3 linked regions of the Homo sapiens genome follow. The protein of the gene in region 3 purifies or fractionates together with the protein of the main gene of each other region. This does not show direct contact. Each region holds a gene or a part of one and is shown on either strand. Other genes may lie near its edges.

Evidence for each region. The genes of interacting proteins can lie anywhere in the genome.
Region 1: the proteins of RUFY2 (region 3) and ZDHHC11 purify together in Homo sapiens (co-immunoprecipitation; one large-scale study listed by IntAct). This does not show direct contact.
Region 2: the proteins of RUFY2 (region 3) and P2RY8 purify together in Homo sapiens (co-immunoprecipitation; one large-scale study listed by IntAct). This does not show direct contact.

The regions. Positions count from the first base shown.
Region 1 is NC_000005.10:844,436-848,067, forward strand, and holds part of ZDHHC11 (palmitoyltransferase ZDHHC11), read right to left. Parts: intron 3,346-3,632; coding exon of another isoform or gene 3,181-3,345; coding exon 3,079-3,180; intron 1-3,078. UniProt on the Homo sapiens protein: Endoplasmic reticulum-localized palmitoyltransferase that could catalyze the addition of palmitate onto various protein substrates and be involved in a variety of cellular processes.
Region 2 is NC_000023.11:1,467,635-1,471,266, forward strand, and holds part of P2RY8 (S-geranylgeranyl-glutathione receptor P2RY8), read right to left. Parts: intron 1,037-3,632; exon of another isoform or gene 868-1,036; intron 1-867. UniProt on the Homo sapiens protein: G protein-coupled receptor for S-geranylgeranyl-glutathione (GGG), an endogenous metabolite present in lymphoid tissues.
Region 3 is NC_000010.11:68,404,478-68,408,448, reverse strand, and holds the start of RUFY2 (RUN and FYVE domain-containing protein 2), read left to right. Parts: upstream 1-1,171; 5' UTR 1,172-1,259; coding exon 1,260-1,263; exon of another isoform or gene 1,264-1,586; coding exon of another isoform or gene 1,587-1,695; exon of another isoform or gene 1,696-2,624; coding exon of another isoform or gene 2,625-2,628; intron 2,629-2,983; exon of another isoform or gene 2,984-3,004; intron 3,005-3,604; coding exon 3,605-3,778; intron 3,779-3,971.

The DNA of each region.
Region 1 (3,632 bases), on a different chromosome or scaffold from region 3:
GCGTCTCCAGTGTCACAGCTCTGGGGCCTCTGCCCGCACCTCCCGACTCCACCTGATGCAGACAGGCCTCCCTACCAGCCAAGGAGCACGCGGGCTCGGTCCACTCGGGGGGCCCTGAGCATGGTCTGTGCTGGGGTCTCCATGGCACCATGCTGGGCAAAGGCACTGAAGCCAGGGAAGGGGAGAGCCACGAGAGTGCCGTGGCACCCAGGAGGGCCTGCAGGCTCAGGGACCTGGATCTCTGCACCCAAAGGGAACTCGGGCTGAGGAGGCCCTGGAGGAGCCCGGCCACACCTCGGCTGCAGTCCCCCCTTCTCCAAGGGTCTCGTGCAAATCTGAGCCAAAAGCGATGTCCATGCTGTAGACGTGAGACCAAATCCACTCCCAGTCTCTCGTCTTTGCTCAAAAGATGCAGAGAATAATCCATCCACAAAAACCAATTCTGGGCAGCAGTTCCTGGAACATACTTTGACTAAACCATCTTCCCTTGGTCTTTCTGCCATGATGATATTTTTTTAAAAGTATCCTTTAACCTCCTTTAATCCTTTCCATTGTATTATGTTCACCTAAGCTTGTTTAAATCCCTTTTTCTATTTTCAACTGGAGGCCAGAGCATGAATGCCGCAGTCCTCCGAAGAGGCAGTTAGGGCACAGCTGCCTTCCCCGCGCTCCTCCTCCCTCCAAGAGTCTTCTGGATAATCCAGGGGTGACGGGTGGCTCCAGGCATGAGCGGCTCCCTGACTGCTGCTCCCTCATACTGCCTTCCCTCTCACAGCTTAGGTTTCCCAAGCAGCAGCCCCTCCAGGCAGCGGACACGCCCTACCCTGCCCCCAGTCCTCCTGGGCTTGAGCCCACTTGTGGGGAGTAAAGACCCCTCATCTTCATCCTACTGTCTGGACAGGACTCCCCTCTTCATCCAGGAAAGAAGGCGGGTCTCTAAGACCACAGAGACAAAAGCCCACAGGATGGGGCAGAGCCATTCACGCGGGGCCTCCTCTCCCCGCAGCCACCCAGGGACATTCTCCTCTTGGTTAGCACAGCCTCCTGCCCCTGCTGCCTGTGTTTAACCTGCAGAGTCCGAGGCCAGCGCTCACAGTCTTCCCAGGACACCAGCGCCGCCTGCCTTCTTTCCGTCCCCCTTCCTCTCTTATCACTACGAAGTATGCAGCCTCCCTCACAGGGGCTCTGCCATCAGCTGGGCCTCCCCATGGGGGCTCCGCCATCAGCTCGGCCTCCCTCGCGGGGGCTCTGCCATCAGCTCCTCAACTTTCCTCATCTTGCTCTCAATGCCGTTGCTCTCTCCGCCTCTGGCGGATGAAGGGACAGAAGCGAGGTTGGCACAGATGCCGGCGTTGGCTGCTGCCTGGAGCTGAGGGCGCCCATGACCCCGGCCCTGCTCTCCTGATGCCCCTTTCCCACACCCAGGCGGTGTCTACACTTGGCACCCACGTGGTCCCTCTCCAGCACCCCTCCTGAGGAAGGCAGACCCTCTCCTTGCCACCTGCCTGTGGGCCCTCACCCCCTCACCTTCCCCACCAGGACCCGCCAGATTGAGCCAGCTCGAGGCACCAGAGCAGAATGAGTCCAGAAGGAAGTGGCACCTGGGGCTAGCATGAGCCAGAGGAGCTGGCCCCACCTTGGCCATCGTGGAGCTGCTCTTCTCCAGGGGAGGAGGCCGGTGGGTCTCCCCGGCCCCTACCATCTCACGCAGCCTCTGGACTCGCTGTGCGGTCATGCAACCTCTCTGTCCCTGCCGGGCTGCTCAGCCTCTCTGGACACATGCTGTGCTCCAGACGGGATGGCAGGGAGGCAGGGCAGGGACCGCCCGGTGCGTCCTGTGACACCAGGCAACGTTGGTCCCCACTCCCACGCACACCAAGGCCTCTTTCAGGTCAGCACAGAGTAGCTGGGGAGCAGGCGTGGTTCTTTTCCCTGGTGATCTTCACAATACAGTGCTGCAGACAGCCGGGGCTCAGCACACGGGGCCTTGAGAGTCCCTGGATCCTCCACTGTGCTCAGGGGAAACACCTCTCATCTATGAGCCTCCACCGTGCTCAGGGGAAACAACCTCTCGTTCTTGAGCCTCCACCGTGCTCAGGGGAAACACGTCTCATCTGTGAGTCTCCACCGTGCTCAGGGGAAACACCTCTCGTTCTTGCACCTCCACCATCCTCAGTGGAAACACCTCTCATCCTTGCGCCTCCACCGTGCTCAGGGGAAATACCTCTCGCCTGTGAGCCTCCACCATGCTCAGGGGAAACACCTCTCGTCCTTGAGCCTCCACCATGCTCAGGGGAAACACCTCTCGTTCTTGAGCCTCCACCGTGCTCAGGGGAAACACCTCTCGTCTATGAGCCTCCACCGTGCTCAGGGGAAACACGTCTCATCTGTGAGCCTCCACCGTGCTCAGGGGAAACACCTCTCGTTCTTGCACCTCCACCATCCTCAGTGGAAACACCTCTCATCCTTGCGCCTCCACCGTGCTCAGGGGAAAGACCTCTCGCCTGTGAGCCTCCACCATGCTCAGTGGAAACACCTCTCATCTGTAAGCCTCCACCGTGCTCAGGGAAACATCTCTCTTCCTTGCATCTCCACCGTGCTCAGGGGAAACACCTCTCGTCTATGAGCCTCCACCGTGCTCAGGGAAACACCTCTCATCTGTGAGCCTCGACCATGCTCAGGGGAAACACCTCTCGCCCATCTGCGCTGGGTGCCCACTGCCCTTCCGTGGCCCCACCCTTGTGCTGGATGAGCCTCAGCCTGGGTGGAGAGAAGGCAGCCCAGCCCAGGACAGCGTGGTCAGGAGGCCTCAGCCAGCGTGGCCCCGCAAGTGCCCCCGGGGGGCCTCCAGGGACTTACTCTATGCGGATGAGCTTGTCCAGGGACGGCTGCACCACAGCCCCAGAGCCAGACAGGAGGCCGGGGCACGCAGGCACCAAGCGCCACCACATCAGGACAGGGACGCGGCCCCAAGAGGACCCTCCACCCTTTCAACACGATGACCCCTGCCCACAGACCCCTCCCTTCCAAATTCCCCCAAGCCTGGCCCGTGCCGGCCATCCCCTCTGTGCCCCTCACCAATAATTCCGGCTTCCCACGCAGTTGTTGATCCATTTGCAGTGGTGGTCGAAGCCGGACACACACTTATTGCAGGAAATGCAGTGTTTGGTTTTCTTGTTCCTGGAGGGATGAATCGGGGAACGCCTGTCAGGCCCCAAGTGCGCAGGTTGGGGCAGGGCCAGAGGTCCATCACTGGAAGCCAGGTGCCTCGGAGGAACCAGCCCTGTGCGGCCTGGGGAGAGGGCGTCCAGCAGGGAATGGGAGGCTGGGGGAGGGTGTTGAGGCCTGTGGGGAGGAGGAGAAGCAGGGCAGCTGTGGGCAGAGGTAGCCACAGAGCAGGAGGAGCTGTGTCTTTGGCCGCCCTGAGCATAGACCCCCCGCCAGCCGTCCTACACCAGCCTCACTCTGGGCCATGGCCCTGGAGGAGGCCGCGCCTGCCCCATGGTTCCAGGAGTTGAGGCCGGGGGCTTGGATCCCACCTGTGCCTACAGGGCCTCCCTTGCAGCTGACAACAGCCCTGTAGCCAACCCCTAGGCCATCACAGAGGCCTCCAGGGCCCCTGGAGACACTGG
Region 2 (3,632 bases), on a different chromosome or scaffold from region 3:
AGTGGACAGAGCTGGAAACAGGGGTGCCCTGGAATTGTTCTTTTGTTTGTTTGTTTTATAGATATGGGGTCTTGCCTTGTTGCCCAGGCTGGAGGGCAGTAGTGCAAACGTAACTCACTGCAGCCTCCAACGCCTGGCCTCAAGCAATCCTCCTGCCTCAGCCTCCTGAGTAGTTGGGACTACAGGTGAGAGTACAACCACGCCCAGCTAATATTTTTATTTTTTGTAGATACAGAGTTTTGCTATGTTTCCCAGGCTGGTCTCAAACTCCTGGCCTCAAGCAATCCTCCTGCCTCAGCCTCCTGAGTAGCTGGGACTACAGGTGACAGTACCTCCGTGCCCAGCTAACATTTTTATTTTTTATAGATACACAGTTTTGCTACATTTCCCAGGCTGGTCTCAAACTCCTGGCCTCAAGCAATCCTCCTGAGTACCTGGGACTGCAGGTGCATGCCACCCTGCCCAGCTAATATTTTTATTTTCTGTAGACATGGGGTTTGGCTATGTTGCCCAGGCTGGTCTCAAACTCCTGGCCTCAAGCAATCCTCCTGCCTCGGCCTCCCAAAGCATTGGGATTACAGGTGTGAGCAACACACCTGGGCTGGAATTTGTTGCTTTAACTCTCCACGTAGGCAGCAGTGCCTCGCACACATTTAAACACCACGTGCTGTTGAAAGTCCTACGGTGGCGGCCTCACCCGGCCACCCTCGTGTCTGTACCTGTGTGGTCTGGGGATCCAGCAAGCAGCCTCTTGGCAGCCAGATCTGTTGCCATTTCGAGTCTGTGCCCTGTGGCCACCGGACAGCCCCCGGGGAAGACAGACAGCCAGGACTGCTGAGGAACGCGCATGACTAATCAAGAAATTACCTCTAACTGATGCCAGCTGCCCTGACACAGGAGGCACAGGCTTGCGGTTTGGGCCCCGCCGGGGCTCAGCGGGCAGGATGGAAATTTTAGAAAATCAGCACAACGGTTGTTCTTGGCGGTGTCTGGCCTGCAGAGGTGGCTGTCCAGAAATTTCTGGGCACTGAATTGTCTGAAGCAACGGACAGACCACAGGTGGGCGCTCAGGGGCTGTAGGTGGGACCCTCCTCTCCTCTCTCCTCTCTCCTCTCTCCCCTCTCCCCTCTCCCCTCTCCCCTCTCCCTCTCCCCTCTCCCCTCCCCTTCCCTCTCCCCTCACCCCTCCCCTTCCCTCTCCCCTCACCCCTCCCCTTCCCTCTCCCCTCTCCCCTCCCCTTCCCTCTCCCCTCTCCCCTCCCCTTCCCTCTCCTTCCCTCTCCCCTCTCCCCTCCCCTTCCCTCTCTCCTCTCCCCTCTCCCCTCTCCCCTCTCCCCTCTCCCCTCTCCCCTCTCCTTCCCTCTCCCCTCTCCCCTCCCCTTCCCTCTCCCCTCTCCCCTCCCCTTCCTTCTCCTTCCCTCTCCCCTCTCCTTCCCTCTCCCCTTCCCTCTCTCCTCTCCTTCCCTCTCTCCTCTCCTTCCCTCTCTCCTCTCCTTCCCTCTCTCCTCTCCTTCCCTCTCTCCTCTCCTTTCCTCTCCCCTCTCCCCTCTTTTCTTTTCGCAGTCTGTCATCCAGGCTGGAATGCAATGGCGTGATCTCGGCTCACTGCAACCTCTGTCTCCCTGCTTCAAGCGATTCTCCTGCCTCAGCCTCCTGAGTAGCTGGGATTACATGCATGCACCACCACGCCTGGCTGATTTTTTACTTTTTGTAGCCCCAAAAAGAGTTTCACCATGTTAACCAGGCTGGTCTTGAATTCCTGACCTCAGGTGAGCCACCAGCCCCGGCCTCCTAAAGTGCTGGGATGACAGTCGTGAGCCACTGCACCTGGCCAGGTTGGACCCTTTTTCTTATGCTTTGCAGGTAAATGCACACCTGTCTGGCAGCAATGCATCCAGCAATGTTTCTCTCCTCTTGAGGGTCTGTGTGTATCTCCTCCAGCCCTCTCACTTATTTCTTCTTAAAACAGCTTTGCCAGCCGGGCACGGTGGCTCACACCTGTAATCCCAGCACTTTGGAAGGCCGAGGTGGGCAGATCACGAGGTCAGGAGATCAAGACCATCCTGGCTAACACGGTGAAACCCCATCTCTACTAAAAAAACAAAAAAACAAAAAAATTAGCCGGGCGTGGTGGCATGGTGGCGAGTCCCAGCTACTCGGGAGGCTGAGGCAGGAGAATGGCCTGAACCCGGGAGGCGGAGCTTGCAGTGAGCCGAGATCGCACCACTGTACTCCATCCAGCCTGGGCAACAGAGCGAGACTCTGTCTCAAAACAAAACAAAACCAACAAACAAAAAAACAGCTTTACCAAGACGTGAGTTACGTACCATAAGCTTTCACTCATTCATACAGTTCAATGGTTTTTAATATATTCACAGATGTGCAAACAACACCATAATGCAATTCCAGAACCATTTTTATCCCTAAACAAAACTCAGGACCTGGCCGGGCATCATGGCTCACACCTGTAATTCCAGCACTTTGGGAGGCCGAGGCAGGTGGATCACCTGAGGTCAGGAGTTCGAGACCAGCCTGGCCAACATGGTGAAATCCTGTTGTTACTAAAATTAAACAAACAAACAAACAAAAACAAATGGGCCAGGCGCGGTGACTCACGTCTGTAATCCCATCACTTTGGGAGGCCGAGGCAGGTGGATCACCTGAGGTCAGGAGTTCAAGACCAGCCTTCCCAACATGGTGAAACCCTGTCTCTACTAAAAATACAAAAAAAATTAACCGGGTGTTGTGGCACATGCCTGTAATCCCAGCTACTCCAGAGGCTAAGGCAGGAGAATCGCTTGAACCTGGGTAGGGGGCAGAGGTTGCAGTGAGCCGAGATCACACCATTGCACTCCAGCCTGGGCAACAAAAGCAAAACTCCATCTCAAAACAAAACAAAAACCCTTCAGAACCCCACAACTGCTAATCCTGTTCGTTCCTGTCCCCAGCCCCTGTGAACCTCAAATCTGCTTCCTGTCTCTGTGGATCTGCCTATTCTAGATATTTTATAAGAATAAAATTCTACAATATGTGGTCTTTTGTGTCTAGCTTCTGTCACTGAGCCAGGGGTCTTCAAAGTTCATCCACGCTGCAGCCTGGGTCAGAGCTTGAGTCCTTTCAGTGGGTGCATAATAGTCTACTGTGTGGATAGACCACATTCTGTTTATTCATTCTCCTGTGGATGGACATTTTTGTTCTTTCTGATTTTTTTTTTTTTTTTTGAGATGGAGTCTTGCTCTGTTGCCCAGGCTGGAGTGTAGTGGTGCGATCTTGGCTCAGTGCAACCTCCGCCTCCTGGGTTCAAGCAATTCTCCTGCCTCAGCCTCCCAAGTAGCTGGGGCTACAGGAACCTGCCACCACGCCTGGCTAATTTTTTTGTAATTTTTTTTTTGAGAGGGAGTTTCGCTCTTTTTGCCCAGGCTGGAGTGCAATGGTGTGATCTCGGCTCTCGGCAACCTCCGCTTCCCCGGTTCAAGCAATTTTCCTGCCTCAGCCTCTGGAGTAGCTGGGACTACAGGCATGCATCACCGCACCCAGCTAATTTTTGTATTTTTAGTAGAGACAGGGTTTCACCATGTTGGCCAGGCTGGTTGTGAACTGCTGACCTCAGGTGATCCACCCTCCTCAGTCTCC
Region 3 (3,971 bases):
CGCGCCACCACGCCCGGCTAATTTTTGTATTTTTAGTAGATATGAGGTTTCACCATGTTAGCCAGACTGGTCTCGAACTTCTGACCGGGTGATCCGCCCGCCTTGGCCTCCCGAGTAGCTGGGACTACAGGAACATGCCACTACGTCTGCCTAAATTTTGTATTTTTAGTAGAGACGGAGTTTCACCATGTTGGTCAGGCTGGTCTCGAACTCCTGACCTCGTGATCTATCCAGCTCAGCCTCTCAAAGTGCTGGGATTACAGGCATGAGCCACCATACCCAGCCGAGGTCTGAATTTTAGTGCTTGTGTGGATATTGCTGTGGCACATAATGAAATATTTTTGAATTGTTTTCTCTCTTTTTTCACTTTAGCTTTTTGTAATGAGCTTTACCAAATTGTTTTAGGGCGGGCTGTGTGGCTCAGGCGTTATCCTAGCACTTTGGGAGGTCGAGATGGGCGGATCACCAGGTGAAGAGATCGAGACCACCCTGGCCAACATGGTGAAACCCCGTCTTTACTAAAAATACAAAAATTAGCCGGGCGGGGTGGCGCGCGCCTGTCATCCCAGCTACTCAGGAGGCTGAGGCAGGAGAATCCCTTGAACCCGGGAGGCAGAGTTTGCAGTGAGCCAAGATCACGCCACTGCACTCCAGCCTGGTGACAGAGCGAGACTCCATCTCAAAAAAAAAAAAAAAAAAACAACCCAAAAAACAAAAAAAAGTCGTAATTTGGGACTAACTAGTTTTATTAGGTTTCTGCCTACTGTTAATTGCTTCAGATTTTCTAAATTCTTTTGGTCCCCTTTGTGTTTGTGAAGGTGAATGGGCAGTAGTCAGGCGTGTTAGATCAGGCCCCACCAGCCCGGTGGAAGCAACGTTTGCGTGTGGCCGGCCGCCCCTTGAAATCCGGCCTTCGCGCTCCAGCGAAGCCCCCGGGACACGGGACCGAGGGCCCAGCACTCTGGCTCCTCACACATGTGGTCTCCTTCACGTTCCTTTCCTTCTCCTCGCGGTCCCAGCGGATGCGAGGAGGCTTAGAGACGGCGGGCTTCTCTCCCGCCCGCCGCAGGGTCCGCGGGTCCCCGCCCCGCCCGGGGCGCCGCTCCCCCTGGGGCCGCCCGGGCGCCCTCCCGCCGCCGGGGGCGCTGTGGGCTGCAGCGGGCCTGGCTGCAGATGCGGTGGTGGCCGCCGAGCGCCTGGAAGGAGCTGCTGGACAGGCCGAGGGAGCCTCCGCCCGAGACCGCGCAGCCGCCGCCGCCATGGGTAAGGCGAGCGGGCCGAAACCGAACGCTAGGCCCTCAGTCCCGGGCTGAGGGCCGCGGCCAGGCGGGGTGGACTGGGAGCTGGGGGAGACGCCGAGGCCGCCAGTCGGAACTGGGGCCCGAACCCAGGATGGGCGGGGACTGCCTGGGACTCGGGGGCTCCCGGGGTCGTCATGGCAACGCGCCCCCTCCCTTGTTCCGGCCCGTTCCCGCCCGGGTTCTGAGGCATAGTGGCCGAGGGCTCGAGGTGCCACGGCGTCCAGGAGCGAGGACAGGGCCAGGCAGGGTGTCACTCCCGGGTCGGGGAGCAGGCGGGGAGGGGCGATGACTTTTCAGGTTTGGGGGTGGCGGAGGGAAGACGCATCTCAGGTTTTGGCCTGGGTGCCTGACGCCGAGGGCGGGAGACGGGGAATGCTGACGCGCAGGAGCCTGGGTGAGCCCGCCGCGATGGTCCTGGGGGGCCCCCAGGCCTCTGGGCAGCCTTGCTGGGGGGAGGGGGCAGGAAGAGAGGCAGGGAAGGGGCTCTAGGCCCCGGCAAGGTGCGGGCACTGGCCCTGGTACTCCTTGCGCGCCTGCGGCCGGGTTTGGGGGTCGCGTACGGGCCGGAGAAGTCCTGTAGCGCAGCCGGGGCGTGGCCGCGGTGTGAACGCCCCTCGGCGTGGGAACTGCCGGTGCCCAGCACCGATCTGCCTCCCAGCAGCTGCAAAACACCCTTTGTGTGGTTGTCGCATCGCACGTTAGGAATTATGATGGGCTGTGTTAAAAATGAGAGTTGCCACGGATTATGAAACATGAAGTGGTTTCACTCCCGAAAAATAGTGGGAGTCAGACCACGATGCAGATTTGAAGGAATTCGTGTGTGGACATTTTTCCACCAGGCAGTTTGGCCATAGCAGTTGTGGCTGTTTGCATTTTAGGTTGCTTAGGATTCAGTGTCAGGCTTCATGCCTAGCTATCTAGAAATCGGAGCTGGAATACTAGATCATTGGAGACTCTGGGTTTTTTGTTGTTGTTGTTGTTCAGTGAAGGAAAAACGGGCACATTGATTACTTGTAAATTTGTCAGAGATTATGAAATGTTATACTAAGTGCTTCGTTTTTCCACACCTTAGTTTTGTCATCTGTGTTTGTTGAAGGTATTCCCACCAGTCACAACAGTGATGAGATGATGGGGAAGCGTCTGAATTTCTAAGTAAACTGAGAATAAAATTTGCGGGAAGGAGGACAATATTTTTGTGAATTGAAAATATCTTACTTGATGATACTGTGTCTTAAAAATATCAATTAAAAATCAGGCCTTTTAGAATTTGCATCTATTAACTTGGTATTCAGACTGGCGCTGTGGGCATCCTCAACTGTGTGGATGGGTGAGGAACATTAATGTAAAACTGGTCTCTGCTTTTATTTTCTCTTTGAAAATAAAACAGTCATGCAATACAGAACTACAGTCAGAATGAAGAAGCCAGACAGAAAGAGGGTAGACGAAAGAATTGGACGGCTTCTTCTGTGTCCCCTTGTCAGTGTATTTTACCTGTCATGTTTGTTGTGGATGACACTGGAATCCTAGAATTTTAACTACCTTTTATTTTATTGCCAGTTTATTCTGAACATTTTTGCCTTGGAATTCATCCTAAGACCGTACCTGCTATCTACCTTTTGCATGAGGCCCTTAAACCTGTTGTCTCTCACCCCAAATTTATCTCCATAGAAGATCATTTTAAAAAACTCATTCTCTATGAAGAGGTACCAGGAAAGTTAAATACAGGAGAATGGCAGATTTGCAGGATCTTGAGAATAATTCATTAACTTTGGCTGGAGTGGTCATGGAAATTTTCTTTTTTCTTTCTTTCTTTCTTTTTCTTTTTTTTTTTTTTGTGAGACGGAGATTCGCTCTGTCACCAGATTGGAGTGCAGTGGCGCTATCTCAGCTCACTGCAATCTCCGCCTCCTGGGTTCAAGTGACTCTCCTGCTTCAGCCTCCCGAGTAGCTGGGACTACAGCCGCGCACCACCATGCCCAGCTAATTTTTGTATTTTTAGTAGAGACGGGGTTTCACCATGTTGGCCAGGATGGTCTCAATCTCTTGACCTCATGATCCACCCGCCTTGGCCTCCCAAAGTGCTGGGATTACAGGCGTGAGCCACCGCGCCTGGCCGGAAATTTTTTACAGTATATGTGAGAGATGTAAAGAGAAGTTAATCAAGGGTGTGGTTTAGCTGGGGAGAATTTGTCAACCAAGGAACAGCAAACTACTGTTGGTTTTTATAGGGGAAGGGAATGGTTTGTATATTTTTCATTGTCATGTCTTACAAATGATGTTGGATTCCTTTCTTGTGTTTTCAGCTACAAAAGACCCCACAGCTGTAGAGAGAGCAAACTTGTTAAACATGGCTAAACTGAGTATCAAAGGACTCATTGAATCTGCTCTGAGCTTTGGCCGCACTTTGGATTCTGACTATCCCCCCTTGCAGCAATTCTTTGTTGTTATGGAACATTGCCTGAAACACGGTCTTAAAGGTATCATGAGATTTTAAAAAATTAATTCATTTTAGAATTTCCGTTTTTCAAGTGCCCTTGAGAATGGGTTATTTTTTGAGGCCATAATTACGTTACTGTGCACTAAAAAATATTGAGTGGATTGATTTTGGGAGAAAATATCTTATGACTATGTTTTCTAATAATGGAATAATAAATGGTCTTCAGAAAATGC